Regions from separate parts of the Homo sapiens genome. Here all the other regions are reported to be linked to region 4. Evidence: microRNA targets listed by miRTarBase, many of them from high-throughput screens and not tested one by one. Region 4 holds a microRNA gene; each other region holds the end of a gene's coding sequence.

What was found. The annotated mature microRNA hsa-miR-5702 reads UGAGUCAGCAACAUAUCCCAUG and lies in region 4 at 3,284-3,305, shown strand. An mRNA with a match to its seed (bases 2 to 7 or 8) in the 3' UTR can be bound and repressed. Matches are read on the target gene's strand: a 7mer-m8 pairs with bases 2 to 8, a 7mer-A1 pairs with bases 2 to 7 and ends in A, and an 8mer does both.
Region 1: the mRNA of OGT is a reported target of hsa-miR-5702. Seed matches in the 3' UTR shown: 7mer-A1 at 5,003-5,009.
Region 2: miRTarBase lists SMAD2 as a target of hsa-miR-5702. Seed matches in the 3' UTR shown: 7mer-A1 at 2,647-2,653.
Region 3: the mRNA of NEDD9 is a reported target of hsa-miR-5702. Seed matches in the 3' UTR shown: 7mer-m8 at 6,076-6,082.

Annotation. Positions count from the first base shown.
Region 1 is chrX:71,571,961-71,579,424 of GRCh38, reverse strand. OGT (O-linked N-acetylglucosamine (GlcNAc) transferase) reads right to left here. Exons shown (of 22, transcript NM_181672.3): 22 at 3,533-5,805. The coding sequence ends at 5,631. GCNA (germ cell nuclear acidic peptidase) reads right to left here and starts at 988. Exons shown (of 13, transcript NM_052957.5): 1 at 903-988. RefSeq lists an enhancer at 140-781.
Region 2 is chr18:47,835,425-47,843,000 of GRCh38, reverse strand. SMAD2 (SMAD family member 2) reads left to right here. Exons shown (of 11, transcript NM_005901.6): 11 at 1,051-7,576. The coding sequence ends at 1,174. Among named protein-coding and RNA genes, the nearest start is that of SMAD2, 91 kb to the left of the region's middle.
Region 3 is chr6:11,178,154-11,185,626 of GRCh38, forward strand. It overlaps NEDD9 (neural precursor cell expressed, developmentally down-regulated 9), which reads right to left. Exons shown (of 7, transcript NM_006403.4): 7 at 5,145-7,473. The coding sequence ends at 7,009. Among named protein-coding and RNA genes, the nearest start is that of NEDD9, 51 kb to the right of the region's middle. RefSeq lists an enhancer at 6,871-7,473.
Region 4 is chr2:226,654,449-226,662,024 of GRCh38, reverse strand. It overlaps MIR5702 (microRNA 5702), which reads left to right and starts at 3,232; the gene lies at 3,232-3,315. RefSeq lists a silencer at 5,885-6,085.

The sequences.
Region 1 (7,464 bases), not on the chromosome of region 4:
CCCCCCACTTCCCTCAACGCCCCCATTGGCACCCCCACCTTCAATGCGGCCACCGGCGCCTCCACTTCTCCCCACACCGCCAGCGCTACTATGTGCTCCTATGCCACCAACGCCACCAAGTACTCCTAGGCCGCAACTGGCACCCCCACCTCCCCCCACGCTGCCACTGGCATCCCTACTTCTCCCCACCCGCCACTAGGGACACCACCTGTTCCTACACCACCACTGGGGCCCCCACCTCCCCCCAGTGCCGCAACCAGCGCCCTCACTTCTCCCCGCGCCGCCACCGGCGCCACGTATTCCTACATAGCCACTGGCGCCACCACACGCTCCTACGCCACCACCAGCGCTCCCACTTCCCCCAAGGCCGCCAATGGTGCCCCTACTTCTCCCCACACCGTCACTGGTGCTACCACATGCTCCTACACCACCACCAGCACCCCCACTTCCCCGACACTGCCACAGGCACCCCCACTTCCCCCAACGCCGCCACTGGTGCCCCTACTTCTCTCCACCCGCCACTGGCACCAACACCTCCTTCTACGCCACCACCAGGCCCCCCACTATCTGCAATGACGCCACCAGCGCCCCTTCTCCCCACGCCGCCACTGGCACTACCAGCTGCTCCTACGCCGCCACCGGCGCCCCCACCCCTCCCAATGCCGCCACTGGCGCCACCATATGTTTCCTACACCACCATGGGCGCCCCCACCTCCCCCAATGCTACCACTGGCGCCTCCACTTCTCCCCTCGCTGCCACTTCCTCTACTCCCACCTCAGGCCTACACGGGCAACCAGAGTCCAAGGTATACAGTGGTCCTGATTTTAATTAAGTCACTCAATTAGGATTAACCTCTGGACCACTTCAGCACCCATCTCAGTCCGACCAGCCGGTCACCTACCTGGTGTTGCAGCCTCTGGCGTGGCCGGCAGCAGCTCACCTCCAACTGCCCGTGGAGTGTGTGCAAAGATCCGGAGCAACTGCGATGAACAACGCCAGGCGCAGGCCCCTTTATAGTGCCCGGACCTAGGGGGCGGTAGCAGTAATTCACGTGTGCTCGCCCGCGCTCCCCTGTACCCACCTATCACAGTGGTCACAAGACAAATTTGAACTTCGCGCCTGTGAACTTGGCGCCTAGCTGTAACGCTTCCGGGATCAGGTCTGTCGCTTTCCACTCCCACGGATGTTGCTTATTTGTCCCAAAACCGCCATTTCAATACTAGAGCGTGGGCACCCGAGGCCAATTCTGCGATTAAAAGTCCCTAACAACTTTCTGATAAAGAGAAACCATGTGAAATCGTTCATAACAAACTTTTATCCTGCGAGAACTTGGATAAGCGAGCCTTGTTCCTTACTTGAATTGTCCAGACCTCTAAGTCCGTTATTGCAACCACTGGGAAAGGGCGCGGGGGGAGGGGCGGGGGCACGAGAACTGGAGCGAAGGCGCGGGAGCAGGGGCGTGGACGGGAACACCGAGGGGAGGGCGGGGCGCGGGGGGACGCGGGAGCGCAGGGGGGCGGGGGTTGCAGGGAAGGCCATCTAGACCCCTAGATAAGAGCAAGGCAGCAACTCAACAGCGCCTGGCAACGGCGAACTATGATGTTTACTTCCAGAACCCTCCAAACCCTGGAGATAAAAAAAGGTTACTTGAGGCTTTTTGGCACTCACTCCATACACACCAAGAAAAACAAACGGGGAAAACAGCGCTTTCTAGATTGTGCCAGTTTCTCCAGCGAGCATCTATATATTTCGTAATGTATGCCTTTGGGTAACAGAACACACATAAAATGTCCCTGCGTTTGATACTATTTTGTGCTAAGCATTATTCCAAGTGTCTTACGACTTAATTCATACAACACTTTAAAAAGTAGGCAACTGTTAGCACTCTCATTTTAGAGATCACACAGCTAGAAAGTGGCAGAGCTGGCCGGGCACAGTGGCTCACGCCTGTAACCCCAGCACTTTGGGAGGCTGAGGCGGGTGGATCACGAAGTCAGGAGCTTGAGACCAGCCTGGTCAACATGGTGAAACCCCGTCTCTACTAAAGATAAAAAAAAAAAAATAGCCGCGTGTGGTGGCCCGCGCCTGTAATCCCAGCTACTCGGGAGGCTGAGGCAGGAGAATCGCTGGAACCTGGGAGGCGGAGGTTGCAGTGAGCCGAGATCGTGCCATTGCACTCCAGCATGGGGACAGGGCGAGACTCCATCTCAAAAAAAAAAAAAAAAGTGGCAGAGCTGAGATTCAAACTCCAACTCTAGTTCCAAAACCTGCTCTTAAGCACCAGATTGCCTACCTAAATACAGATACTTTCTCAGTTGATAAAAAAATTGGATAAAGGGGGCTGATTACTCTCTCTCTCTACAATGAAGTTGCAAATTAACCTCTACAAGCCTCTTTATAAGAATGGGGATTACATAACTGTGCCTCAGAGGCTTGGGCAAAGAACCAGGATGTTAGCTATAATTGAGAGGCATATGCTTCAAGTAAAAGAATGGGATAGGTTTGGAATCAAATCTTAAAATGGGCAGTTCAGAAATTACACACATTTACTCAAGGTGTGCAAGCAACTCCTTTAGATTGAAGGCAGGAGGAGCTGAAGTAGACTGGAAATAATGTAGATTTTTCAAGAGAAGCGAATGGGAGTAAAAACTTTTGAGTAGGCTTTCTTCCCATAATAATCTTTTAGGAAACAAACACCAATCCACATGAGGGCTTTAAGAAGTTGGGAATTAAATCATGCAAAATTTTACTGAAAAAAATCTTCCCTCTCATATCTGAGAAAACTGGCAAACAGCATTTGCCATGATATCAATTCATGATATCAATCATGAATTGATATCTTCCTCCCTGATGCTTGTGGCAGAGTTCGACCACTATACAGAGCAGGAAGGAAAATAATTTTGCCCCCAAGAGCCAAGAAAAGAATGGTCCACATGAAAACCGAGACTACAAGGGTAAATGAAAGCAGAGAGGTCACAAGCAAAAGAGGAGCAAGCATGAATGGGTGTGTTGGGGATCACAGGCTTTGTCTTTTTTTTTTTTTGAGATGACATCTCACTCTGTTGTCCAGGCTGGAATGCAATGGCACGATCTCAGCTCACTGCAACCTCTGCCTCCCGGGTTCAAGCGATTCTCCTGTCTCAGCCTCGCATGTAGTTGGGATTACAAGCGTGTGCCACCACTCCCGGCTAGTTTTTTTGTATTTTTAGTAGAGACAGGGTTTCACCATGTTAGCCAGGCTGGTCTTGAACTCCTGACCTCAAGTGATCCACCTGCCTCCGCCTCCCAAAGTGCTGGGGTTACAGGCGTGAGCCACCACACAAGGCCACTTTGCCTTCTTAATGGATCATAAACTAACCCCACCCTCTACCAGACCTGGCTGAGAAAACAATTCCTAATATCATAGCTACAGTAGGGAAATTTGGTCCTTTCATGCTGTTTGGAGGTGTTTAAATATAGGTTTCATCATTGGATGACACTATTCTTCAGTCCAACACTCAATATAACAGGATACAAAATACATCAGCCGTATTAAAGGGAAATCATTCATTTATTAAGGATCGCAAGACAACATCTTAATTTCTGTAGTACGATTTAAATGTTTTACTTCTTTGATAAAGCAGAGTACAATAGAAAAAAAACAATTAGTTTCCAGTAATATCTATATCTCTAATCAGAATTAAGTCTTCCAAGACATATTACCTGGAAATAAAAGCCTGTTACAATAAGCAAAGCTTCAACCAGAGCGGCTACTTTTCGTGCCAGGAAAAAGTTCATCCCTATAGGAGGAATGATGTGCTATGTAAAATGGCTGTAAGGTCACAGCCTTGAGGGCATTGGAAGTATATTATCCTATTCCACATTAAGTATTTCAGCGAATTTCAAACATCAGTTTATCTGCAACCATGCTGGCAACCTTTAACTGATATTTCAATCAACCGGTAAAAAATAAATTAAGAAATCCCTTCACGGATATTCCGTGATTTACACTGTTAAAAGGTACACTGTTCATTAACATGTAATTCTGGTTCAGAATTACCTTTGAGACTCCTTGCTCAAAATTTGGTTAACAGTAAGAATCTTCCAGAAATTCAAGTTCTTATTAATCAATAATTTGTCAGCTAGGATACATTCAGGCATCAGCTGCAACTACAGAATAGGTGCACAGCCTCAGCGCTTTGGAAAGACATAATCTAGAACACTACTAGCAGACAAAAAATTACCTGCAACTGGATAGCGTAAGTGCAGTATAGCGAGACAAAACATATATTCATATGTTGGCTTGTTTAAGCCTCAAACCCTCGACCCTTTGTTGAGATCCCATAATTTTATTCCTATGATTTTAATAACTCAAGTTCCAGGAGGACTATAAGTCTAATTTGTACTCCAAACCAAACAGCAGTGCAGTTCGCTACTACTGAGGCTGAATCTGTACAGACTTCAAGACCAAGTCCAGAAGACAGTTATTATCTAAAAAATAATTACTTGAATACATAGATGATCCTTCAGAGATTTTACCTATAACCTATTTCTTGATGAAGGTTATTTAATGCACTGGAGATAACTGTGACTTACTGATCAAATACTTGAATACTTATACTTACCTGGGATTTCATTTCTGCTGAAAGAAATAGGAAGAACAGGACTCACTTAAAAAAAAAAAAAAAAAACTTTAGAAAGGAAGGTAAAAATCTTACACACACTATCACTTTTGGAAGCAGCATAGAAGGGGCAGTCAAGGGTAAAACACTGGTGAAACAGGTCAAAATTAGGAAAAAAAAAAAAACTATATTATTATCAATGACAGTACCACAACTGTGCCCTTGATAATTAGTAATCACTCCTAAAAATCTTCATTTGGCACCAGATGGTGTGTTTAAAACACCCTAGGATGTTTTGAATCAGGCTTGATTTTGTTAGTTGAGTTACAGGAGAATTTTAAGGGTGAGGGTATGGGGGTCAGGGAAGAAAAGGAAATGGGAAATGGACCAGAAAAAATCTTGAGTCATCATCTAAATCAACAAAGCACTGATAGCTCCAAATATTAGGTCAGACACTAAAACGACTGATATAGGCTCAAGTGGTTTATAAAACCTATAAAAAGACTACACCAGCAAAGTCCCTGTCAATCTGTCAGAGTTCAGAAACTAAAACAGGGAGTAACATTTTAGCTTAAAACCTTATCTCAAGAGAATCATATACACTTCACATGAATAAAAATACCTGAAACCAAACATTTTTAAAAGCTCCAGTACCCAAAATATAAAGAAAAAAAAATCCAGAAGACTGAATCAATCCATGGAATCACAAAGCGGCCGGACAATCTATATCTCCCCTCCACACTAACCATCCCATGGAAGACCAAGGGAGATCAGACCTTCCAGACCTATGCACCATCTGGTCGCCGCAAAATTCTACGGAGATTCCTTGTGGAAAAGCAGTTTCCCATCTTTTGTGTCTCTCCCTACCATGCAGGAAGCAAGTCTGGCTGTGCTATTCTATTACCATTATATATCACCCATCTGCAACAAGGTACTGTACAGACAAGTAAGAAGTATGTTATCTAGTTCCCTTTCCCCCAGAAGGTTGAGGCTCAGGTATAGGGGTAATTCTCCTGTGCAGTCTTTATTTATGCTGACTCAGTGACTTCAACAGGCTTAATCATGTGGTCAGGTTTGTTGCCAGCTGCATAATGCTCCCACATCTGTAGATAGAGCCGCTCTAGTTCCATTGTGTATTGTTTGGTGTTGAACAGAGGGCTAGATATTCTTTGCTTCCAGACTTTGCCACGAACTTTCTTCAGGCTGGGTAATAAAAAACAAGAACCCAGTTTACAAATCAGAGCAGAAACTCAGAAACACACCCTATAAATACCTAGTCGCATTTGTGGCAAAAAATGCATGACCAAACTCTACGCTATCTCATTTCTTGATTGGCTTCGTGCTAAAAAGGGAAGGGTCACATCTTGCATAATGCTAACACTGAAATGAGCTCAACTCCATATACTCTGAAAAAACTTAGTTCTTTCCTAAACAAGTATATCCAAGGGATACCACGCGTTCTCCATTTCGTCTTGTTTCTACCTTTAAAATAACAAGAATTGACAACGGCACATGACTATTCCTATGTACTGTTGCTTACCTTTTTGGTAAGCAATTTAGCAAGTATGTATTAACCTTAAATGTTCATAACCCTCTGGCCTAACAGTAACACTTTAAAATCTATTAAAAAGAAATAATCAGATGCAAAAACATACAGGACCATGCAAAGATATTCATTGAAGCATCATTTACAAAAGTTAAAGCATAAACATAAGATGAAGTATTCGATTTATGGTCATTTTGATGAAACAGAAAACCACTCAAGGGGAAAAGAAATACAATAAGTCTACTCTCGTAATTTTCCACTTGTACCTGAACTGAGTTCAGATTTTTAAAAATTGCTAATATCACCAAGAGTATGGTTCTGTTCAGAAAAATAAAAAAGAAGTAATTGATTCTTCAGGAAACACAGGGGAAAAGATTTCTACTTCCCTTTTGAATATATTTTTCATGAGATTATTCTTAGATGAAGGGATAAATACTTTAGAACCAGAAGCCAGAACATTTCTGTGCATTTTTAAAAGCAATAATTTTTATTTATTTTCTTTTAATTTTTGAAATAGAGTCTCACTCTGTTGCCCAGGCTGGAGTGCAATGGAACGATGATGGCTCACTGCAGACTGAACCTCCTTAGCTCAAGCAATCCTCCTGCCCCAGCCTCCCGGGAAGCTGAGACTACAGGCACGCATCACCACACTCAGCTATTTTTGTATTTTTTGTAGAGATGGGGTCTCGCCATGTTGTCCAGGCTGGTCTCGAACTCCTGGGCTCAAGCAATCCTCCTCCCTCAGCCTCTTAAAGCGCCGGGATTATAGGCATGCGCCACCACGCCCAACTTTGTTTTAATGTTTGTTGTGACAGAAGCAGTAAAATGGTTGTGCATATCTGTTGGTCTCAATACAACCATGTCCATATTAATGCTACCCTCCAAAGAGAAAGACCTGTGCACTCTATTTTTTTAAAATTCTATGCCAATAGGAAAATAAACTGTAGTGCATTCATACAGTGAAATACTACTCAGCAAAAGAAATAAACTTGATGAAAGAAGCCTTTAGAGTGCATATTGACATAGTTCCATTTGGATAAAATTCTAGAAAAGCAAAACTAATTTATGGAAGGGAAAAAAACCCTCCAGAACAGTGGTTGTCTCTGGGGGTTGGTGAAAAAGACTGACTGATAAGGAGCATGAAGAAACTCTCTGGAGTGATAATGTTTTTTGTCTTCATAGGAATTTGGGTTACAAAGGTATTTCTCGGTTGGGCACTGTGGCTCACACCTGTAATCCCAGCACTTTGGGAGGCCGAGGCAGGTGGATCACAAGGTCAGGAGATCAAGACCATCCTGGCTAACACGGTGAAACCC
Region 2 (7,576 bases), not on the chromosome of region 4:
GGAGATGAAGAGTTGATAATGGGCTTTTCTCATATTTGAAGGGCTGTTAGTTTGTAGAAGCAAGTGGATTTATTGACTTTATTCTGTATAGCAAATAAGATGGAACTAAAATCAGCGCATGGAAGTGACAGGATGTCATTGAATAATTTGTAATTCTCTTAGAGTTGCCCCTTTTGTTGAAGCACTATTAAAAGCCCGAATGGTGTTGCTAAGAGGGATGTTCATTGGCTTTGGCAGGGAAAGTTGAATTCCAGCTTTTAACACTCTCTGTGGTGTGGGTTTAGCTTGGGCCAAAATTTTGTTTTTGCTTTGGTATACTTTTACTTAGATTCTGTTTGATATTTGAGTATCTACTATTCTGTGGTTGATTTGGTAAGTACAGTTACTTTATGTCTTGGTTTGCTTGGACAATCCTGATTCACGTGTCTCCTTTTGGCCTGATTTTTTTCTGCCCCCCACCCCGAGACAGAGTCTCACTCTGTCGCCAGGCTAGAGTGCAGTGGCATGATCTCGGCTCACTGCAGCCTCTGCCTCTTGGGTTCAAGTGACTCTCCTGTCTCAGCCTCCCGAGTAGCTGGGACTACAGGCACACGCCACCACGCCCAGCTAATTTTTATATTTTTAGTAGAGACGGGGTTTCACCATGTTGGCCAGGATGGTCTCAATCTCTTGACCTTGTGATCCGCCTGCCTCGGCCTCCCAAAGTGCTGGGCTTACAGGTGTGAGCCACCACGCCTGGCCCTGGCCTGATATTAATAGTATCTACATTCTCTCTCAGGTGTTCCATTTTGGATGATGGTGAATAATAAGATCACCTTATTAATTTTAGTGCGATGAGAAAAAGATGTTCTTGTAAATCACTTCTAAAACAAGGTCATCAGAAGTACTTTGACTTTGAGGATCAACCATTTTGCGGAATAATCGTGTCCAAAATTATATACACAACCTTTTAATTTCTGTAAATTTTTAATGCAGTGTACCTAAACATAGCCATTTTCCCTGCCTGTGGACTTGAATTTCATAATCATTTTCCTGTATTCTTTTAAACAGAAGGCAGACGGTAACAAGTACTCCTTGCTGGATTGAACTTCATCTGAATGGACCTCTACAGTGGTTGGACAAAGTATTAACTCAGATGGGATCCCCTTCAGTGCGTTGCTCAAGCATGTCATAAAGCTTCACCAATCAAGTCCCATGAAAAGACTTAATGTAACAACTCTTCTGTCATAGCATTGTGTGTGGTCCCTATGGACTGTTTACTATCCAAAAGTTCAAGAGAGAAAACAGCACTTGAGGTCTCATCAATTAAAGCACCTTGTGGAATCTGTTTCCTATATTTGAATATTAGATGGGAAAATTAGTGTCTAGAAATACTCTCCCATTAAAGAGGAAGAGAAGATTTTAAAGACTTAATGATGTCTTATTGGGCATAAAACTGAGTGTCCCAAAGGTTTATTAATAACAGTAGTAGTTATGTGTACAGGTAATGTATCATGATCCAGTATCACAGTATTGTGCTGTTTATATACATTTTTAGTTTGCATAGATGAGGTGTGTGTGTGCGCTGCTTCTTGATCTAGGCAAACCTTTATAAAGTTGCAGTACCTAATCTGTTATTCCCACTTCTCTGTTATTTTTGTGTGTCTTTTTTAATATATAATATATATCAAGATTTTCAAATTATTTAGAAGCAGATTTTCCTGTAGAAAAACTAATTTTTCTGCCTTTTACCAAAAATAAACTCTTGGGGGAAGAAAAGTGGATTAACTTTTGAAATCCTTGACCTTAATGTGTTCAGTGGGGCTTAAACAGTCATTCTTTTTGTGGTTTTTTGTTTTTTTTTGTTTTTTTTTTTAACTGCTAAATCTTATTATAAGGAAACCATACTGAAAACCTTTCCAAGCCTCTTTTTTCCATTCCCATTTTTGTCCTCATAATCAAAACAGCATAACATGACATCATCACCAGTAATAGTTGCATTGATACTGCTGGCACCAGTTAATTCTGGGATACAGTAAGAATTCATATGGAGAAAGTCCCTTTGTCTTATGCCCAAATTTCAACAGGAATAATTGGCTTGTATAATCTAGCAGTCTGTTGATTTATCCTTCCACCTCATAAAAAATGCATAGGTGGCAGTATAATTATTTTCAGGGATATGCTAGAATTACTTCCACATATTTATCCCTTTTTAAAAAAGCTAATCTATAAATACCGTTTTTCCAAAGGTATTTTACAATATTTCAACAGCAGACCTTCTGCTCTTCGAGTAGTTTGATTTGGTTTAGTAACCAGATTGCATTATGAAATGGGCCTTTTGTAAATGTAATTGTTTCTGCAAAATACCTAGAAAAGTGATGCTGAGGTAGGATCAGCAGATATGGGCCATCTGTTTTTAAAGTATGTTGTATTCAGTTTATAAATTGATTGTTATTCTACACATAATTATGAATTCAGAATTTTAAAAATTGGGGGAAAAGCCATTTATTTAGCAAGTTTTTTAGCTTATAAGTTACCTGCAGTCTGAGCTGTTCTTAACTGATCCTGGTTTTGTGATTGACAATATTTCATGCTCTGTAGTGAGAGGAGATTTCCGAAACTCTGTTGCTAGTTCATTCTGCAGCAAATAATTATTATGTCTGATGTTGACTCATTGCAGTTTAAACATTTCTTCTTGTTTGCATCTTAGTAGAAATGGAAAATAACCACTCCTGGTCGTCTTTTCATAAATTTTCATATTTTTGAAGCTGTCTTTGGTACTTGTTCTTTGAAATCATATCCACCTGTCTCTATAGGTATCATTTTCAATACTTTCAACATTTGGTGGTTTTCTATTGGGTACTCCCCATTTTCCTATATTTGTGTGTATATGTATGTGTTCATGTAAATTTGGTATAGTAATTTTTTATTCATTCAACAAATATTTATTGTTCACCTGTTTGTACCAGGAACTTTTCTTAGTCTTTGGGTAAAGGTGAACAAGACAACTACAGTTCCTGCCTTTGCTGAGACAGCAGTTACACTAACCCTTAATTATCTTACTTGTCTATGAAGGAGATAAACAGGGTACTGTACTGGAGAATAACAGATGGGATGCTTCAGGTAGGACATCAAGGAAAGCCTCTAAGGAAAGGATGCATGAGCTAACACCTGACATTAAAGAAGCAAGCCAAGTGAGGAGCCAGGGGAGATAAGCATTCCTGGCAAAGAGAATAGCATCAAATGCAAAAAGGTTCACACTAAAGGAAACTCCTGATTAGGTATTAATGCTTTATACAGAAACCTCTATACAAATCCAAACTTGAAGATCAGAATGGTTCTACAGTTCATAACATTTTGAAGGTGGCCTTATTTTGTGATAGTCTGCTTCATGTGATTCTCACTAACATATCTCCTTCCTCAACCTTTGCTGTAAAAATTTCATTTGCACCACATCAGTACTACTTAATTTAACAAGCTTTTGTTGTGTAAGCTCTCACTGTTTTAGTGCCCTGCTGCTTGCTTCCAGACTTTGTGCTGTCCAGTAATTATGTCTTCCACTACCCATCTTGTGAGCAGAGTAAATGTCCTAGGTAATACCACTATCAGGCCTGTAGGAGATACTCAGTGGAGCCTCTGCCCTTCTTTTTCTTACTTGAGAACTTGTAATGGTGTTAGGGAACAGTTGTAGGGGCAGAAAACAACTCTGAAAGTGGTAGAAGGTCCTGATCTTGGTGGTTACTCTTGCATTACTGTGTTAGGTCAAGCAGTGCCTACTATGCTGTTTCAGTAGTGGAGCGCATCTCTACAGTTCTGATGCGATTTTTCTGTACAGTATGAAATTGGGACTCAACTCTTTGAAAACACCTATTGAGCAGTTATACCTGTTGAGCAGTTTACTTCCTGGTTGTAATTACATTTGTGTGAATGTGTTTGATGCTTTTTAACGAGATGATGTTTTTTGTATTTTATCTACTGTGGCCTGATTTTTTTTTTGTTTTCTGCCCCTCCCCCCATTTATAGGTGTGGTTTTCATTTTTCTAAGTGATAGAATCCCCTCTTTGTTGAATTTTTGTCTTTATTTAAATTAGCAACATTACTTAGGATTTATTCTTCACAATACTGTTAATTTTCTAGGAATGATGACCTGAGAACCGAATGGCCATGCTTTCTATCACATTTCTAAGATGAGTAATATTTTTTCCAGTAGGTTCCACAGAGACACCTTGGGGGCTGGCTTAGGGGAGGCTGTTGGAGTTCTCACTGACTTAGTGGCATATTTATTCTGTACTGAAGAACTGCATGGGGTTTCTTTTGGAAAGAGTTTCATTGCTTTAAAAAGAAGCTCAGAAAGTCTTTATAACCACTGGTCAACGATTAGAAAAATATAACTGGATTTAGGCCTACCTTCTGGAATACCGCTGATTGTGCTCTTTTTATCCTACTTTAAAGAAGCTTTCATGATTAGATTTGAGCTATATCAGTTATACCGATTATACCTTATAATACACATTCAGTTAGTAAACATTTATTGATGCCTGTTGTTTGCCCAGCCACTGTGATGGATATTGAATAATAAAAAGATGACTAGGACGGGGCCCTGACCCTTGAGCTGTGCTTGGTCTTGTAGAGGTTGTGTTTTTTTTCCTCAGGACCTGTCACTTTGGCAGAAGGAAATCTGCCTAATTTTTCTTGAAAGCTAAATTTTCTTTGTAAGTTTTTACAAATTGTTTAATACCTAGTTGTATTTTTTACCTTAAGCCACATTGAGTTTTGCTTGATTTGTCTGTCTTTTAAACACTGTCAAATGCTTTCCCTTTTGTTAAAATTATTTTAATTTCACTTTTTTTGTGCCCTTGTCAATTTAAGACTAAGACTTTGAAGGTAAAACAAACAAACAAACATCAGTCTTAGTCTCTTGCTAGTTGAAATCAAATAAAAGAAAATATATACCCAGTTGGTTTCTCTACCTCTTAAAAGCTTCCCATATATACCTTTAAGATCCTTCTCTTTTTTCTTTAACTACTAAATAGGTTCAGCATTTATTCAGTGTTAGATACCCTCTTCGTCTGAGGGTGGCGTAGGTTTATGTTGGGATATAAAGTAACACAAGACAATCTTCACTGTACATAAAATATGTCTTCATGTACAGTCTTTACTTTAAAAGCTGAACATTCCAATTTGCGCCTTCCCTCCCAAGCCCCTGCCCACCAAGTATCTCTTTAGATATCTAGTCTGTGGACATGAACAATGAATACTTTTTTCTTACTCTGATCGAAGGCATTGATACTTAGACATATCAAACATTTCTTCCTTTCATATGCTTTACTTTGCTAAATCTATTATATTCATTGCCTGAATTTTATTCTTCCTTTCTACCTGACAACACACATCCAGGTGGTACTTGCTGGTTATCCTCTTTCTTGTTAGCCTTGTTTTTTGTTTTTTTTTTTTTTTTTTGAGAGGGAGTCTCGCTCTGTTGCCCAACCTGGAGTGCAGTGGTGCGATCTTGGTTCACTGCAAGCTCCGCCTCCCGGGTTCACGCCATGCTTCTGCCTCAGCCTCCCAAGTAGCTGGGACTACAGGCGCCCACCACCACACTCGGCTAATTTTTTGTATTTTTAGTAGAGACGGGGTTTCACCGTGTTGGCCAGGATGGTCTCGATCTCCTGACCTCGTGATCTGTCCACCTCGGCTTCCCAAAGTGCTGGGATTACAGGCATGAGCCACCGCGCCCAGCCTAGCCATATTTTTATCTGCATATATCAGAATGTTTCTCTCCTTTGAACTTATTAACAAAAAAGGAACATGCTTTTCATACCTAGAGTCCTAATTTCTTCATCATGAAGGTTGCTATTCAAATTGATCAATCATTTTAATTTTACAAATGGCTCAAAAATTCTGTTCAGTAAATGTCTTTGTGACTGGCAAATGGCATAAATTATGTTTAAGATTATGAACTTTTCTGACAGTTGCAGCCAATGTTTTCCCTACGATACCAGATTTCCATCTTGGGGCATATTGGATTGTTGTATTTAAGACAGTCAGAATAATGATAGTGTGTGGTCTCCAGAGGTAGTCAGAATCCTGCTATTGAGTTCTTTTTATATCTTCCTTTTCAATTTTTTATTACCATTTTGTTTGTTTAGACTACACTTTGTAGGGATTGAGGGGCAAATTATCTCTTGGAGTGGAATTCCTGTGTTTTGAGCCTTACAACCAGGAAATATGAGCTATACTAGATAGCCTCATGATAGCATTTACGATAAGAACTTATCTCGTGTGTTCATGTAATTTTTTGAGTAGGAACTGTTTTATCTTGAATATTGTAGCTAACTATATATAGCAGAACTGCCTCAGTCTTTTTAAGAAGGAAATAAATAATATATGTGTATGAATTTATATATACATATACACTCATAGACAAACTTAACAGTTGGGGTCATTCTAACAGTTAAAACAATTGTTCCATTGTTTAAATCTCAGATCCTGGTAAAATGTTCTTAATTTGTCTGTGTACATTTTCCTTTCATGGACAGACCATTGGAGTACATTAATTTTCTTAATCTGCCATTTGGCAGTTCATTTAATATACCATTTTTTGGCAACTTGGTAACTAAGAATCACAGCCAAAATTTGTTAACATCAAAGAAAGCTCTGCCATATACCCCGTTACTAAATTATTATACATCCAGCAGATTCTGGGATGTACTAACTTAGGGTTAACTTTGTTGTTGTTGATAATACTAGATTGCTCCCTCTTTAATTCTTCTTCTGGTGCAAGGTTGCTGCTTAAGTTACCCTGGGAAATACTACTACAAGGTCAAATTTTCTAGTATCTTACAGCCTGATTGAAGGTGATTCAGATCTTTGCTCAATATAAATGGATTTTCCAAGATTCTCTGGGCCATCCTTGACCCACAGGTGATCTCGCTGGAGTATATTAACTTAACTTCAGTGCCAGTTGGTTTGGTGCCATGAGATCCATAATGAATCCAGAACTTCACCATTGCTTAGATATAAGAGTCCCTTGGAAGAATAATGCCACTGATGATGGGGGTCAGAAGGTGTATTAACTCAACATAGAGGGCTTTTAGATTTTTCTTCAAAAAAATTTCGAGAAAAGTATTCTTTTACCCTCCAAACAGTTAACAGCTCTTAGTTTCTCCAAATATGCTCTTTGATTTACTTATTTTTAATTAAAGATGGTAATTTATTGAACAATGAAATCCGTAATATATTGATTTAAGGACAAAAGTGAAGTTTTAGAATTATAAAAGTACTTAAATATTATATATTTTCCATTTCATAATTGTTTTCCTTTCTCTGTGGCTTTAAAGTTTTTGACTATTTTACAATGTTAATCACTAGGTAACTTGCCATATTTCTGGTTCTATATTAAGTTCTATCCTTTATAATGCTGTTATTATAAAGCTGGTTTTTAGCATTTGTCTGTAGCAATAGAAATTTTACTAAGTCTCTGTTCTCCCAGTAAGTTTTTTCTTTTCTCAGTAAGTCCCTAAGAAAACATTTGTTTGCCACTCTTACTATTCCCAATCTTGGATTGTTCGAGCTGAAAAAAAATTTGATGAGAAAC
Region 3 (7,473 bases), not on the chromosome of region 4:
AATATCCTAGACCAGGTTTTTATAAATGTTAAGAGAGAAAACAGCTTTTAGGGTCAAAATAATTTTGTGAAGTAGTAGACAAGGCAAGTTTTTATATTGTAAGACTTCTTGGAGCCCTTTTTTTTTCTTTTTCTTTTTTTTTTTTTTGAGACAGAGTCTCACTCTGTTGCCCAGGCTGGAATGCAGTGGCGTGATCTCAGCTCACTGCAACTTCCGCCTCCCGGGTTCAAGTGATTCTCCTGTCTCAGTCTTCCGAGTAGCCGGAATTACAGGCGCCCGCCACCAAGCCTGGCTAATTTTTGTATTTTTAGTAGATATGAGGTTTTGCCATGTTGGCCAGGCTGGTCTTGAACTCCTGACCTCAGGTGATCCACCCACCTCAGCCTCCCAAAGTGCTGGGATTACAGGCGTGAGCCACCAAACCCGGCCTAGAGCCTTTTACATGCTCACGAGTATTAAGTCTCTCCAAGAGACTGATATACGATGTTGTATTTTTCAAAATGACAATGCAGCCCTGTTTTCAAGTAATATGTACTGACTGTTTGTTTCTGACTATATCTTGAGAACCTAGATGACCTAAGAACATAGCATTTTGCTTTAGCATATACTGTGTATCTCTTGCAGTCTGTTACTTGTTTCACTGACTCTTTTCTAATCACCCTGTGTCAGGGTCTTTCTTGCTTCTTCTCTCTGTCTCTCTCCTCTGCTCTTTCCTCTCCTCTGCTCTCCATCCCCTCCCTTTTATCCTTTCATAGTCTTCACTATCTGTATCATCTTTGTCTCATCCAGGCTCCCCATCCTGCTTTCTCTCCTTTCTCTTCTTTGAAAGGATATGATGCCATCTAATGCCCAGTTTCATTAGGCCAACGAATATTTGGTATGTCTATTCTGAATGAATTCTCTGAAGGTACAAAATGCAAAGCCAAAGTCGCTGCAGTGTGATTCTAGAGAGCCCCTCATCACCTAAACTCTCCACTGCATCTCTGCAGCACGCCGTCCTGGCCACCAGCCTTTGCCAGGCTTTCCTGTGCCGTCCAGTTAGCCTTTCTGGTATAGTCTGAATGTATCTCCCAAAAAGCGTGTGTTGGAAACGTAATCCCCCTTGCAACAGCATTTGGAGGTGGGGCCTAATGGGAAGTATGGAGAGCTCCACCCTCATGCATGGTTAATGGGGATTATAAAATTTTGGGCTTGAGGCTGCCGGTTCAATCCCTTGCTCTCTCATGCTCTCTTGCCTTTCTACCTTCCATCATGGGATGATGCAGCAAGAAGGCCCTCACTGGATGTGAGCCCTCAACCTTGAACTTCTCAGGTTCCAGAACTGTGAGAAATACATTTCTGTTCTTTATACATTACCCAGTGTTTGGTATTCTGTGATAGCAGCACAGTACAGACAAAGACACCTTTCTTTATGATCAACCTCTTCAACCCCACCCTTGGCAAAAAGCTCTTTCTCACCAGCTAGATCACTTTGATTTTTCTCATTCTCTCTACTTTAAAGTCTTTGCCTGTAAATTACTTAAACATTTGTCTATAATCTGCCTTCAATTGTTTAAAGGACATGTTTACTTTTTATTTCAAACAAAGGGAGGCAGAATCCACGTCTCCCTTCTTCTCCTGTCCCTTTGGTCCACAGCACGTTGCTGAGCACACAGAGACACTGGCTGTGAGGTGGGGCCAGCTCCTCTGGCGGAGACAGCTGGGGTTCTATTGATACGCAGGGCAGATTTGCCTGCTCTGGCCGGCCAGGCAGGAAATGTTCAATGAATAAGTGAATCCTTGTTGTTTTTTATGTTCTTTGGTGAATGACAATATTTCTTTTGTCATAATCCCTCAAAAATATAAAGAATGTAGATGTGGTTTATGGGGAAGCATCTAAAACCCAGACAGGCTTTTACCAACTCAGGGTTAGGAAGCCACATTTGTCTTCCTGGTGGGACATGAACGAGCTCAGTATCATTGACTCTAAAGCAGTAGCCTGCTATGGATTTAGAAGCTTGGCTTTCCGGTTTGTTCTCTTTCTATGGAACCGCCAATGTTTCTGTGAACTGCTGATAATATTGACTTGAAAAATTGGAGCATTAGAGTTAGTTGGGAAATGCTTTGCCTCTTTTTAAAATCAACTTTATTCAGGTAAGGCTTATATACAATAAAATGCACCTATTTTTAGTGTATTTTATAATAAGTTTTGACAAATTTATCCATGCACACAATTACTGCAACAATCAAGATATAGATACCGTGCTGTCCAGTAGAATAGCCACTAAACACATGTGGCTATTTCAAGTCTAATGAGCTAAAATTAAAATGAAAAACGTCCTCAGTTGTACTAGGTATGTTTCAAATCCTCAGTAGCCATATGTGACTGTTATTCAGCATATTAGACAGTGCAAATGGAAGACATTTTTACCATTGCAGAAAGTTCTGCAGTGTTGGACAGTGATGATATAAAACATATCCATCCTACCAAAAGGCTCCTTCGTGCTCTTTCCCAAATAATCGCCAACCCCTACCCCTGGCCTTAGGAAATCACAGGTCTAATTTTTGTCACTACAGATTAGATTCCTGCCTTCTGGAGCTTCATACAGAATTCCTCTTTATTTGCCTGGCTTTCATTCAGCATGTTTCTGAGGTTGATCTGCTCATGTTGTTACATGTCTAATTTGTTCACTCCTTTTCATTGCTCAATAGTATTCCATTGTATATATAGACCACAATTTACTTATCTACTCACCTGTTGATGACATTTGGGTTGTTTCTATTTGGCACAATTATGAATAAAGAAATTAGCTTTTCATATGGATATATGTTTTCATTTTTTGGGGGGTAAATATCTATGATTGGGATTGCTGGGTTATGTTGAAAGCATATGTTTAACTTTATTAGAGGTTACCAAACCATTTTCTAAAACGATTGTACCATTTTACACTCCTATCAGCAACGGAAGAGAGTTCCATTCTTACCAATTATTACTGGTTTTATTTTGTTTTGTTTGCTTGTTCTATTAATTACTGAGAGACAAGTATTGAAATCTCTACCTATCATTATAGATTTTCTATTTGTCCTTTCAGTTATATCAGTTTCTGCTTCATGTATTTTGAGACTTCGTGATTGGTACATACACATTTAGGAATGTTTTGTCTTTTTTATGAATTAATCCCTTTATCATGAAATGCCTCTCTTTGCCCTTGTTCTGAATTCTACTCTGTCTGTTAATAATATAGCTGCTCCGGCTTTTTAAGAAAAAAATAGAATGCACATGGTACATCTCTTTCTATCCCCTTGTTTTTAATTTATCTGTGTATTTTTATTTCAAGCGAGCATCTTTTAAATAGCATATAGTTGGTCTTGCATTTTAAAATCCAGGCTGAGAATCTCTAACTTTTAATGGGAGTGCCTAGACCATTTACTTTGAAAAAATTAACAAAGAATAAACTGTACATATTTAAAGTGTACAATCTGAAGAGGTTTGGCATGCATACATCTGTGAAACCATCACCACAATCAAGACAATGGACACTGCTTTCATTCCCAAGTTTCCATGGACTTCTTTGGAATCCATTCCTTCCACCATTTCTCTCTAGGCAACCACTTATGTGCTTTCTGTCCCTATAGGTTAGTTTGAATTTTCTAAAATTTTGTATAAATGGAAACATAGCATATGTATTCTTTTTGTCTTGCTTCTTTTTTGCGTCATAATGATTTTGAAGTTCATTCATGTTGGCTATTTGTTGCAATATTTTTCCTTTTGATTTCTGTGTAGTATTCCATTGTGTGGATATACCGCAGTGATTTTATTCATTCATATAGATGAACAAACATCTGGGTTCTTTCTAGCTTTTGCTATTACAAATAGAGCTGCTATAAATATTTTTATGTAAGTCTTTGTATGGACATATGCTTTTATTTCTTCTGGGTAAATACCTAGAAGAGAAATTGCTAGGTCATAGGGTAGACATAGGTTTAACTTTTTAGGAAATCGCCAATCTGTTTTCCATAGTGTTTGTACTGTTTAACATTCTTACCAGTGATATACAAGAGCAATGTTTGCTCCCCTTTCTTGCACCAACACAGGGTATCATTTGTCTTTTTAATTTTAGTGATTCTATTTGGTGTGGTGTTTATTTACTTTTTCCATTTACCTACATAAGTCTTCTTTTATGAAGTTTCTTCTCCAAATTTTTGCCGAGTTAAAAAAATTTAGTTTTTTGTCTCCTAAGTCTGATGTAAGTCCTTGGCTGATAGATGTGATGTATTTTCTCCCATTTTCTGGCTTGACTTTTGGTTTTTTAATGGTATCCTCAGAAGAATAAGAGTTTTTAATGTTGACAAAGTCCAATAAATCATTTTTTTTCTGAGTTAAGTTTTTAAAGTGTTTCAAATATGGAAATTTTGTCTACCTAAGATAACAAAGATTTTCTCCTGTGTTTTCTTCTAGGAGTTTTAAGTTTTACATTTAGGTCTATGATCCATTTGGGTTAATCTTTGGGTAGAACGTAAGGTACACATTCATTTTATTTCATAGATCTAGTTGTTCCCGCACCACTTTTTTTTTCGGAAGAGTTTTCATTCCCTCCTTGAAGTGCCTTGACATTTTGTCAAAAATAAATTAATGCTTATATGTGTGGGCAAAATGGTACATGATACATTTAAATAATTTGTCTGTAAATCTCAGTGGGATACCTGAATAAAAGAGTGGGCCAACCATTAAAAATGATAATTACATGATTACAAATCTCTTATTTTCATTAAATATAGTTTGCTTTAAATTATTTCTTTATGACTATTCCAAAACAAATAGAAAAATTTTCTTTGATTCTAAAAACCACATGACTGGTAACATCCATATTATGAAAACAAATCATCCTATATGTTACTGAGTGTATGGGTTTTTTGGTGAACACAAGTCTTGTTCCAGATATTTGAATTTGATAATGTTCACAGATTCTAGAATTTTCTTTGAATGCAAATACACTTGGAAGTGACACATATACAGAGAAAACCAAACCCTCAATTTTCCTAAAAAAATCCAGACCTATAGCATTGCTAAAATAATCATAATTTAACTTTTTATATTAGGAGTACCAAAGTAAGCCAATATTTAATTCTGTGACAGAGGAGTATGAAAAAGAAAACCCAGTGGCTATGAAAACAGAGATCTAAAAATTTAATGATTTAAAAATAGCCTCTACATACAAGACGGCAAAGAGTAATACAGATTGAACATTTGGTTTTAAAAATGTGAAATGTCTCCACTTAGCGTAGATCAATCAAGTCAGCCATCTCCTAAGAAATACACATTATACAATGAAATCTACAAAGACACACTTTTTAACTTCAAGCGTTGTTGATTTTCAGCAACCCTCTTCCCACATGAACATTTCCTTGTAATGTAATGTATGACTTTTAATCTTCTTTTGGCAGAGTAGGACTTTGAGAATTATAATAGCAGTTGTTTTGAAAAGCACCTTCTATGATCATTTATTTCCACTGATTTTTTTTTAATCACTCTGAGATCATGCATTCTTGTTTTTTAAATCCTTTTCTGTTCCAATGATTTGGTTGTTTAAAACAAGCAAGCTTAATTCAGTCAGGCATATATTGCAAATAAAAACATGTTTCCAAGTAGGCTGGAATAAAAATGCTAAATAAGAACTGGGCCAAAAGATCATAGATAATGTGCTTCTTCTCTTGGTAATATGTGAATACATTTACCCATGGGGTAGAAGTATTTCACCTGCCCCATGAAGAACCTGATGGCTTGTGGTGTCTGTGCTGTGTCAATACTAACAGATGTGAGGAGACAGACTATGGAATGGACGCTGTGACTATCTGTGAGATAGTGGAAGGGGTTATACACACTGGCCACAGGAAGTTGCAAAAATTAGATGGACTCTGTGTAGCTAGCCACTCTTGAGTGTCAGGTCTGCATATGTGAGTTTTAAAGAAGGTGCAAGATAGCAATAAATTCCCTTAGAGAGCAGGATATGTCCTGGTAGCTCTATAGTTCCATGATCAAGGACCTGGCCAGTTTCCCTCAGGTAATGGGGGTAGTAGCACCAAAGTGAATATTAAGAGTCAGAAAGGCCTCTACTTGCAACTGGCGGATCAAACCATTCCCCTATTTTGGTGAACAATCATAGTCTGATACGCCTTTGTAAATCTTTGCTGCAAATATGGTTTTTACAACTCTAAAAACATCTTTTGGAAAACCTCATGACTGAACCACTCACAAATGCAGAAGATTGAACAGCCCCAGGGAGGCAATTGCTCTCCTTTTATTGTAGCTGTCTCTCAGTATTGAAACAACCCAATCCTAACTGTGGTCCTGGCCTCTAAACACACAGGTCTCTCTTCCCTCCAGCACCTGAACTATCAGAGCTTGGATCCACATATATATTCTGAAATTTGCTCCGCAAGAGGGCTTTTGGGCACTTGGCCATCATGTGTTTAAGATGGTCAGTTTTGAAAAGAGTTTTCCAAACAAGAATAAGTCATGCTATGCCTCATGATTTGGAAGGTGAACACTTGCAAATAAACTATGCTTCCCAGATTTGGGAGTGCCAGGCTCAGAATCATCACAAGGACGTGGAGAACAATATTATAACCAGCTGGTATGTTTTTAACAACAACAAAAAAAATGCAGCATTAGAAGGTGCTTACTAAGGTGCTTCGTAATTCATGGTTTTTTTTTTAATGAAATGCATCAGACAAACATCTACAAACAAACATGAATACATGGGCATACAAAAGCACGTGGACAAGTTTTCTGTACAGTTTATGTCTCAGATACTTCTATGTATACATAAGAACCACTCAGGGGGAAAAAAAAAGATTTCCCTCTCCAGCTCCCTGAATTTCTGAAAGTTGACTGACCCATAAAATGTTAAAATATTTCATTTTTATATAAAATATCTACAAAAATAGATAACATTTACAAAAACCAGACAGTATTTCCAGTTTTCCTTAGTAACCGTTAACGCAGTCCCCTTCCTCTTTTTTTTCTTCTCAGAACGTTGCCATCTCCAGCAAAGAGCGCTTGAACAGCTGGGCATTTCTAGAAAGGTCTGTCACTTGGTGCACCATTTCCTGCAGGGCCGTGGTGCTGGGGTAATGGAGGGCGGCCATCTTGGTTGCCATGACTATGGTCTTGAGCTGCTCGCAGAGCTGGTTGCTGGAGTTCATGACTTTGTTGCGAATGTCCTGGGCAGTCACCTGCCGTGTCAGCGTGTCTCCAATGAACACCAGTTTGTGTGCACTGAGGATGACAAACTTGCTGTGTGCCACGAAGATTCGCGGGGGCTGGGCTGAGCTGACACAACTGAAGAGTGCGTCAATGGCGTTGAGAAGGGAAATGAAATGGGTCTCACATTGGTCATAGTAGAAGCACAGCAACTGCCGATCCTGAGCACTCACGCCACTGTTTGTGGTGGGTAGGCTCTGAGAGGGCTTCCACTTCGAGATGTCATTCTC
Region 4 (7,576 bases):
ACCGTAAGAACGTGGGAGAACTTAGCACATGAGGAGAGAGCGGGGAATGGAATTGGCGTGGACGGGGGAGGCGCAGATGACCTGCTAGTTGGTTCTGGCTAGATGATCTCTGCCCCACTTCTGTGAGGAGGCATCTGTAGTCACAGATAGAAGGAGTGGTGGTATTTTTAAAGTGAACTGTTGCGATGATATCTGCTTAGCTTTCTCATGCTAATCTCTTTCTGTGGTAAGTCCTTCTAAAGTTATTGATTCATAGCAGGGGTTGCACTTTAAATCTAAGGGATCTCTGCATGTTAGGAAGATTAAGGGGTGGGGAGTAGAGTTCACACACGTTGGCATGAGGGGCCACATTGTGTCTTGGGAGAAGGATGTCGTTGAGAAAAAGGCTGGGTTCGTGTTCTAAGTTCAATAGAAAACAACTCAGCATTCTGGGGGCAGGGTTAGTGTACAGGAACTACTCTCTTGGTGACTTTTTGGAAACGGATCCTATAAACACGTATTTGAGCTGGTGGGGTGTGTGTGTGTGTGTGTGTGTGTGTGTGTGTGTGTGTTTGGAAACGAAACACATGGGGAGAGTGACATTCATTAAAAATGTCTGGCCGAGCGTGGTGGCTCACGCCTGTAATCCCAGCACTTTGGGAGGCTGAGGCAGGTGGATCACGAGGTCAAGATATCGAGACCATCTGGCCAACATGGTGAAACCCCGTCTCTACTAAAAATACAAAAATTAGCCGGGCGTGGTGGCATGCACCTGTAGTCCCAGCTACTCGGGAGGCTGAGGCAGGAGAATCGCCTGAACCGGGGAGGCGGAGGTTGCAGTGATCCGAGATCGTGCCACTGCACTCCAGCCTGGTGACAGAGAGAGACGCTGTCTCAAAAAAAAAAAAAAAAAGTCTAAGGCATTCTTTCCTCCCTTAATTCCTTTCCTTCCCTAATTATTTGTTGAGCACCTACTATGTTCCAGGGCTGGCACTTGTCCTTGGAGCCTAGTGATAGGTACTCATCCTGCTTATATTTGAGGGGAACAAGATCCAGATGTACAAGGTAAAGCAAGCAAATGTCAGCTGGTGATGAAGACATAATCAGGTTAATGAAACTGACAGGGATTAGGGGCATGTGGGGGTGGGATTTCTTGGTGAAACTTGAGAGATGACAAAGAGCCAACCCTGCAAGGAGCAGAGTGTTTCAAGCAGTGAGAATGATGATTGCAGAGGCCCCAAGGAGGGAAGGAATTGGCATGCTCTGTGACCTGAAAGGAGGCCAGAGAGGATGAAGCAATAATGAACAGGGTTAGAGACAGGAAGTGAACTGGTCATTTGGAGCAGGGTTTCTCAGCTGCAATGCTACTATTGGCATTTGGGACTGGAAAATTCTGTTGTTGGGAACCAGGCTGTGTATTAGACGACATTTTGCAGCATTCCTGGCCTCTACCCACTAGATGCAAGTAGTTTTCCCCCAGCTGTGACTGCCACAAATGTCCTTTGGAGTTGAGAATGACTGGTTTGGGCTGTAAGCCCACCAAAAGGGAGGTGGGACCCCAAAGGAGAGTTACTAAAATGTCAAACAAAAAAGGCGATGGGTAATTTTATGTATCTGCTTGTCTGGGACACAGTACCCAGAAATTTGGTTAAACATTTGGATGTTTCCTCGAAAATATTTTTTAAATGAGATTAACGTTTAAATGAGTAAGTGCTGAGTAAAGCAAATTGCCCTCCATAATATGGATGGGTCTCATTTACCCAGTAGAAGGCCTTAAAAAAAACAAAGACTGACCTCCCCACAGAAGACAGAATTCTGCCAATAGACTGCCTCCGAACTCTGCAGTGTCATCTCTTCCCTGGGTCTCCAGCCTGCCGGCCTACTCTGCAGATTGGGGACTTACCCAAATTCCCTAAAATTGCACACCAGACCCCACTTTCTTTATACACACACACACACACACACACACACACACACTTTCCCTTTCTGTCTCTCTCTCGCTATTGGTTCTGTTTCTCTGAATATATATATATGTATAAAATACACACACAGACACACACAAACACAGACATACACTCTCTTTCTATTTCTCTCTCGCTATTGATTCTGTTTCTCTGAATATATATATATATATATATATATACATACACACACATATATAATACACACACAGACACACACAAACACAGACACACACACTCTATTGGTTCTGTTTCTCTGAATATATATACACACACACACTATACATGCACACACACTCACACATTTCTCATCTCTCTCTCTTTCCTATTTTCTCTGTTTCTCTGGAGAATCCTGACTACTAGACTACTACAGTCACTATTCTTCTCACTTTGGCACTGAATCCAGGGATTCCTGTGACCATTGTGTCGGGCGGTGCCTGGTAGGTGGAGCTGGCAGTGGAAGTGGCTGAAGCCACCGTATAGCCTCAGGACCCCCACAGAGAACACACACTTTGGCCGGGAGCGCAATTTTCTTGTTGTGGGGCCCAGAGCAGGGCTGGCAATGAGGCCCTGTCCAAAGCCTCACAGTTCAGAGAGGCCTCATGGAAAGACGGTAGGAAATAGCTGCAGTAAGGACAGGACAGAGGGAATTGGATGGTTTCTGGTGCACCTGAGGTCACCCCTGGGAACACTCTTACTAATGAGTAGATAGGATTTTCAGTGGGGCTAGAGATATATGAGAGGAGGTGACAGTCAAGGAGATAGGGCCACTGCTATTTTGTGGTGATATTTTTACACCCAGGCTGATGTAGGGGAACTGAGGATGGAGACAGAGGAGAAATATCTCAATGTGAGTGTGACTTAATTATCTGGTGGTCCTCAAATGGTGCACAGATAAGTACAGACTATGTACTTGCAACCTGGCTGCTGGCTAACAAAAAAGAGTGGCTGGAAAGAGGTAATATACACACAGGTGGCTATTCTCTACACATTTCCTGCTCCTTAGGGACTTAGAGAGTTGCTTACGTTGTCACACCAAAAAGCACTTTCTTTTCCTGAATATTCAGAAGTTGGATTCTTTCTCAATAGAGGCCAGAGTGAAGAGGAAAAGTGGTTTCTTCTCTGTTTCCTGTTAGGAAAACACATAGGTTTGATGATTTGGACCGGAGATTCAAGAGAAGTTTCTTTTTATAGATGTTGGTTTTGGAGTGAGTTCCAGCAGTCATTACAGGTATCTCTCCAGTTGTCTCAGTAAACTTGCTGTGACTTGGCCTTAAGAGGAGGTTTGGCGGCCTCAACTCCTGGGATATGTTGCTGATCCAACCTGAAATCCTTCTGTAGGTTGAGTCAGCAACATATCCCATGACTTTTGGGTGATAACTTCTTTTATGTAAGACCACAAAGCAAATGGCCCTTTCTCCATAGTGTTGAATTTCCCAGAGGCTATGACCAGGGATTAGATGGAAGTAAAAAAAGTTTAAGAGAGACTGCTAAAAAGCATTGAGTAGTACATAACTTGGCTTAGTCAAGCTCTTCAAGTGTTTGTGGAGAGCCAATAATACCATGGGTAATTGAGAAGAAAATGTGTTTATTTTCACACATGGGGATAGCTCCAGTGGAAATGAATCCCTTTAAATATTTTAATTTCAATGTACTCCATATTATAAGAGCTGCACATACACACACTCATACATTTAGTTTTTGGCTTGTATTGCTTTTACTATGACTGTAGTTTTGCAAACTTGATGTTACATAAGCACATAAAAGTTTTTCTTAAAAATGATGCAATTTTATCAAAATGATCTAAATATAAAATCTCAAAAAAGGCCATGTCAACACATAGTTAACCAAGTAAATGCAATTCTCACTGTTTGGGCCTTTATAAAAAATAATCTATAGTAGTACATATTTTGGGATATATGTGATTTTGATACATGTGATATTCATCACTCCATTTGTTTTTGTTGTTTGATATATGTGTATAATGTGTAATGATCAAATCAGGATAATCGGGATATTCATCACCTCCATTATTTATCTTTTCTTTGTTTTGGCATTTTGATAATCATTCTAGTTCACTAGTTCCTCACCTTCTCCCCCATGGATGCCGTTAATGGCTATCCTTCCTGTTGGTAATGGCCGCTCATACCAAGTTGCTGCATGGATAATTCTGCAATTTCCAGCTCCAAATCCTCTCCTTTCTCATGTGTTGATCTCAGATGCATCAATACTCTGCTGACCCAATATCATGGTTGGCAACAGCTGATCTACCTTGTAAGATGGTCAGTATGATAAAAGCACATTCAAGCAATTCAAATAAACTGGTGACCTCAAACTCTAACATGCAGTTTGGTATCATGCGGGTCTGTTCATTTCAGTGTTTTATTTAAATAAGAGGCATAGTTTTGTCAAACATTAACAAAAATTGATATTCCTTAATGGGGGAGTGTTTGTAGTAGGACAAAAACTTTGTTCTTTGTACTCAAGAGACCTTGATTTACAGTCAAATCCAAGAGGCTTTGAGCAGGTTACTCAACTTATTCTACATTTCAATTTTCTTATCTCTAAAGTGATGCTAACAATGATTGTCACTAACTCATACACAGCCTTCTTGTCGTAGTCACAATCAATAATGAGTGAAAGTGATTTGTAAGTTTCAAAGCACCAGGCATACGTAAGATTGCATTCATTCACCAATAATTATTGAGCACTTACTGTGTGTTGACAACTTTAGTTTAATCCGAGTTTAATATAGAGTTTAGGGTAAAAACAAGGTCCCTACCATCAGCGATTGCACTATGAGAAGCCCATGAAATAAGAAGTAACTAAAATTCTTTGGCCCCCACATGAAAAGTAATAAAAATTTAAATTCTGTGATAGATGAATTAGTTTCACAAAGCTTTAAATAGCATTAATGATTTTATTTTTGCACATTGTGTTCCATTTTGTTTTTGAGCCAAGTTGTAAGGTTAACACAGTATTTATTAAAATAGAACTCTTTCTTATTTTATAATTACAATAGAGAATCATTTAAATAAAAGGCTACAGGTATGCAAAAAGTAGAAACTGCAAGTACTTTGACTGGAACTGGGTATGAATCCCAGCTTTGCTCTTACTATTAATAGCTATGTGAGTCCATGAACTGACAGTTTCCTCTTCATCAAAATGGGGTTAATAAATATGAAAATTTTGTGAGAATTAGGAGAAAAGTGATTTAAAATGCCAAGCATAATAATTGGTGGGTATTTAATAAATATTTTATGTTTTCTACCTGTATTTTTACAGTTATTTTGAGTAGAATTAATTTTATATGTAATAGAGTGATCTGAAAAAATCCCAGTCTCTATGATATATATTTGCTTATTTCAGGTTCTATTTTTGCATAACAAATGTCTCGAAATCCTCAGCTCTCAGTGGAAGGGACTTCCTGGCCATTTACCAACTAACTGTCTCAAGGACTTTTCAGACAGTTGATCATTAACTCTCAGAAAACGCCTAACCCATAAATTATTCTGGCTGCTTTAAATTTTTGAGGAAAATGCACATTAATTTTTTTGTTTGTTTTTGCATAGCTTTAACCTCTAACCACAATAATTTCCCTGTGCGCACAAACAGTAAAGTGTCTTTTCTGAGTACTTAAAGACTGGGGCAATCAAAATCAGTAAATAATACAGTTTCGCTTTCATTATTCTTGGAATAGTTTTATTGTAAATTAGGAAAAGAAAATTTGCTGGATATAAAAAGCAAAAAATGTTTTGTCTTCTATTGGTTTCTTAAGTGTTGTGACTCAGAGCATATTAGATGAAATAACTTCTTCACTAATCAAAATAGATTATTTGCTCCTCAATTAAACTAGTAAATTCCAAAGAGATACTGAAAGTATGTCTTGAAAGTTTTTTAGGAGTTAGCATGACTATCATGGTGTCACATGCAAAGAAATGTCCTTCTTTTGTGAAGGAGGTTGGCATGGCCACACAGCCTGGACTTTGGTGTTGTAAGAACCATTTTCACACTGGACTGCAAATCATATTCTGTGATCTAGGGAAGTTAGCCAACTTCTTAGAACTTCAGTTTTCTCATCTCTCACGTGGGGCAAACACTGTCTGCCTCATGAGAAAGTCTAGAAGACTGCATTGGAGTATATATTCATATTTCCTATACACAGTGGACATGAGTAAATGTTTATTATTTCTCTGCCTCCCCTAACTAAAAATGCTAGGCTAGGTGATCTTAAAACTAAACACCCCTCATTTGTATGGCAGGTTACAAAGTGCTTCCACATACGATATCTCCTTTGATTTTTCAAAACAACCCTGGGAAGTTGGTAGGCTTGGACTTAGTATTGATACTATTTTACAAGTAAAAAGACAGTGCTCAGAGAGGTTATGAGACTTAGTAGCCCAAAGTCACTTGGCTGGTGAAGAAAGATGCTGGGAGAAGGTGCAGGCCATGTGGCCCCAGAGTCTGTGGTTTCCCCACTATACTTTGTAGGGGCCCATGGTTTTGTGGAAGATCCAAATGGCAAACTTGAATATATTCTTGTTATTTTCAGATGACAATTATATCAGTCAGGGTTCAACCAGAGAAGCAGAACTGGTGTGAGATTTATCACAACAAATTGGTTTATGCAATTGTGGGGACTGGTTAAGCAGGCCTGGGGTCCATAGGGAAGATGGTCAGAAGGGAAGTAATGAGCATGCCAGAACCCCAGAAGCATGAGCTGGAATGTGGAATCTTTCAACTCAGGGAAGGTCTAGGCCTTTCTACTGATTAAAGGACTTCCATCTTGATCAACAGGACTTCCCTATTAATTAACTTAAAGTCAACTGAGTAGGGAACTTAATTACACCTGCAAGATCCCTTCACACTGGCACCTGGATAAGAGTTTGCTGAATCACTAGGAGAAGGTAGGTACATGCTATAATATGGCTGCTGCCCCCTTTCCATCCTCCTTCCAGGAAAGGATATTCTTTGTAGGCCATGCTAGCCAGAAACAGACTAGAAAGAGAATTCTGGGGATTGTAGTTCAATTGATCCAGGTTGAAAAGTCGCAAAGCCAACACAATAACAAACCAAAGCCCACCACTGAAATGTCTTTCTCTAGTAATGTATTTCTCTGGTACCTGTGCAAACTTTCTAGTCATTGCAAGAGGTACTTGAGCAAACTGGACAAACTGATTGGTCACCATGAGTTTACTCCTAGCATTTCTGCTATCAGGTTCCAATGACAGAGCTTCTTTGCACACTGGATCTTGTGGACTGGATTTCTGGAAGATTCCCAGAGAAGTTCCACATTGAGAGTGTTTGTTGATAGATAGCACAGGTGCACATCTCACAGTTGAACTCGAGGTGTTTAACCATTTTAGGCAAAAGCAAAACAAAGCACAAACAGCCAAAACAAACAAAAAGGGGCAACTGTAGTGACAATAGTATAACAAGACCAACAGCAACACTAGAGAGTTATTAGTTCAAGTTTTATATTCTTCCCAGGACGACTGGGATTATTTGCTAACAGGGAAAGAAACAAGGGATGGCAAACCTGAGTACAAACCAGCCATTTACCTTTACCAGGCATCAAATATTCCTTTGCCCTTTTGCCTGGCACAATATCCAAATAAGTAGTTGTATTAGAGTTC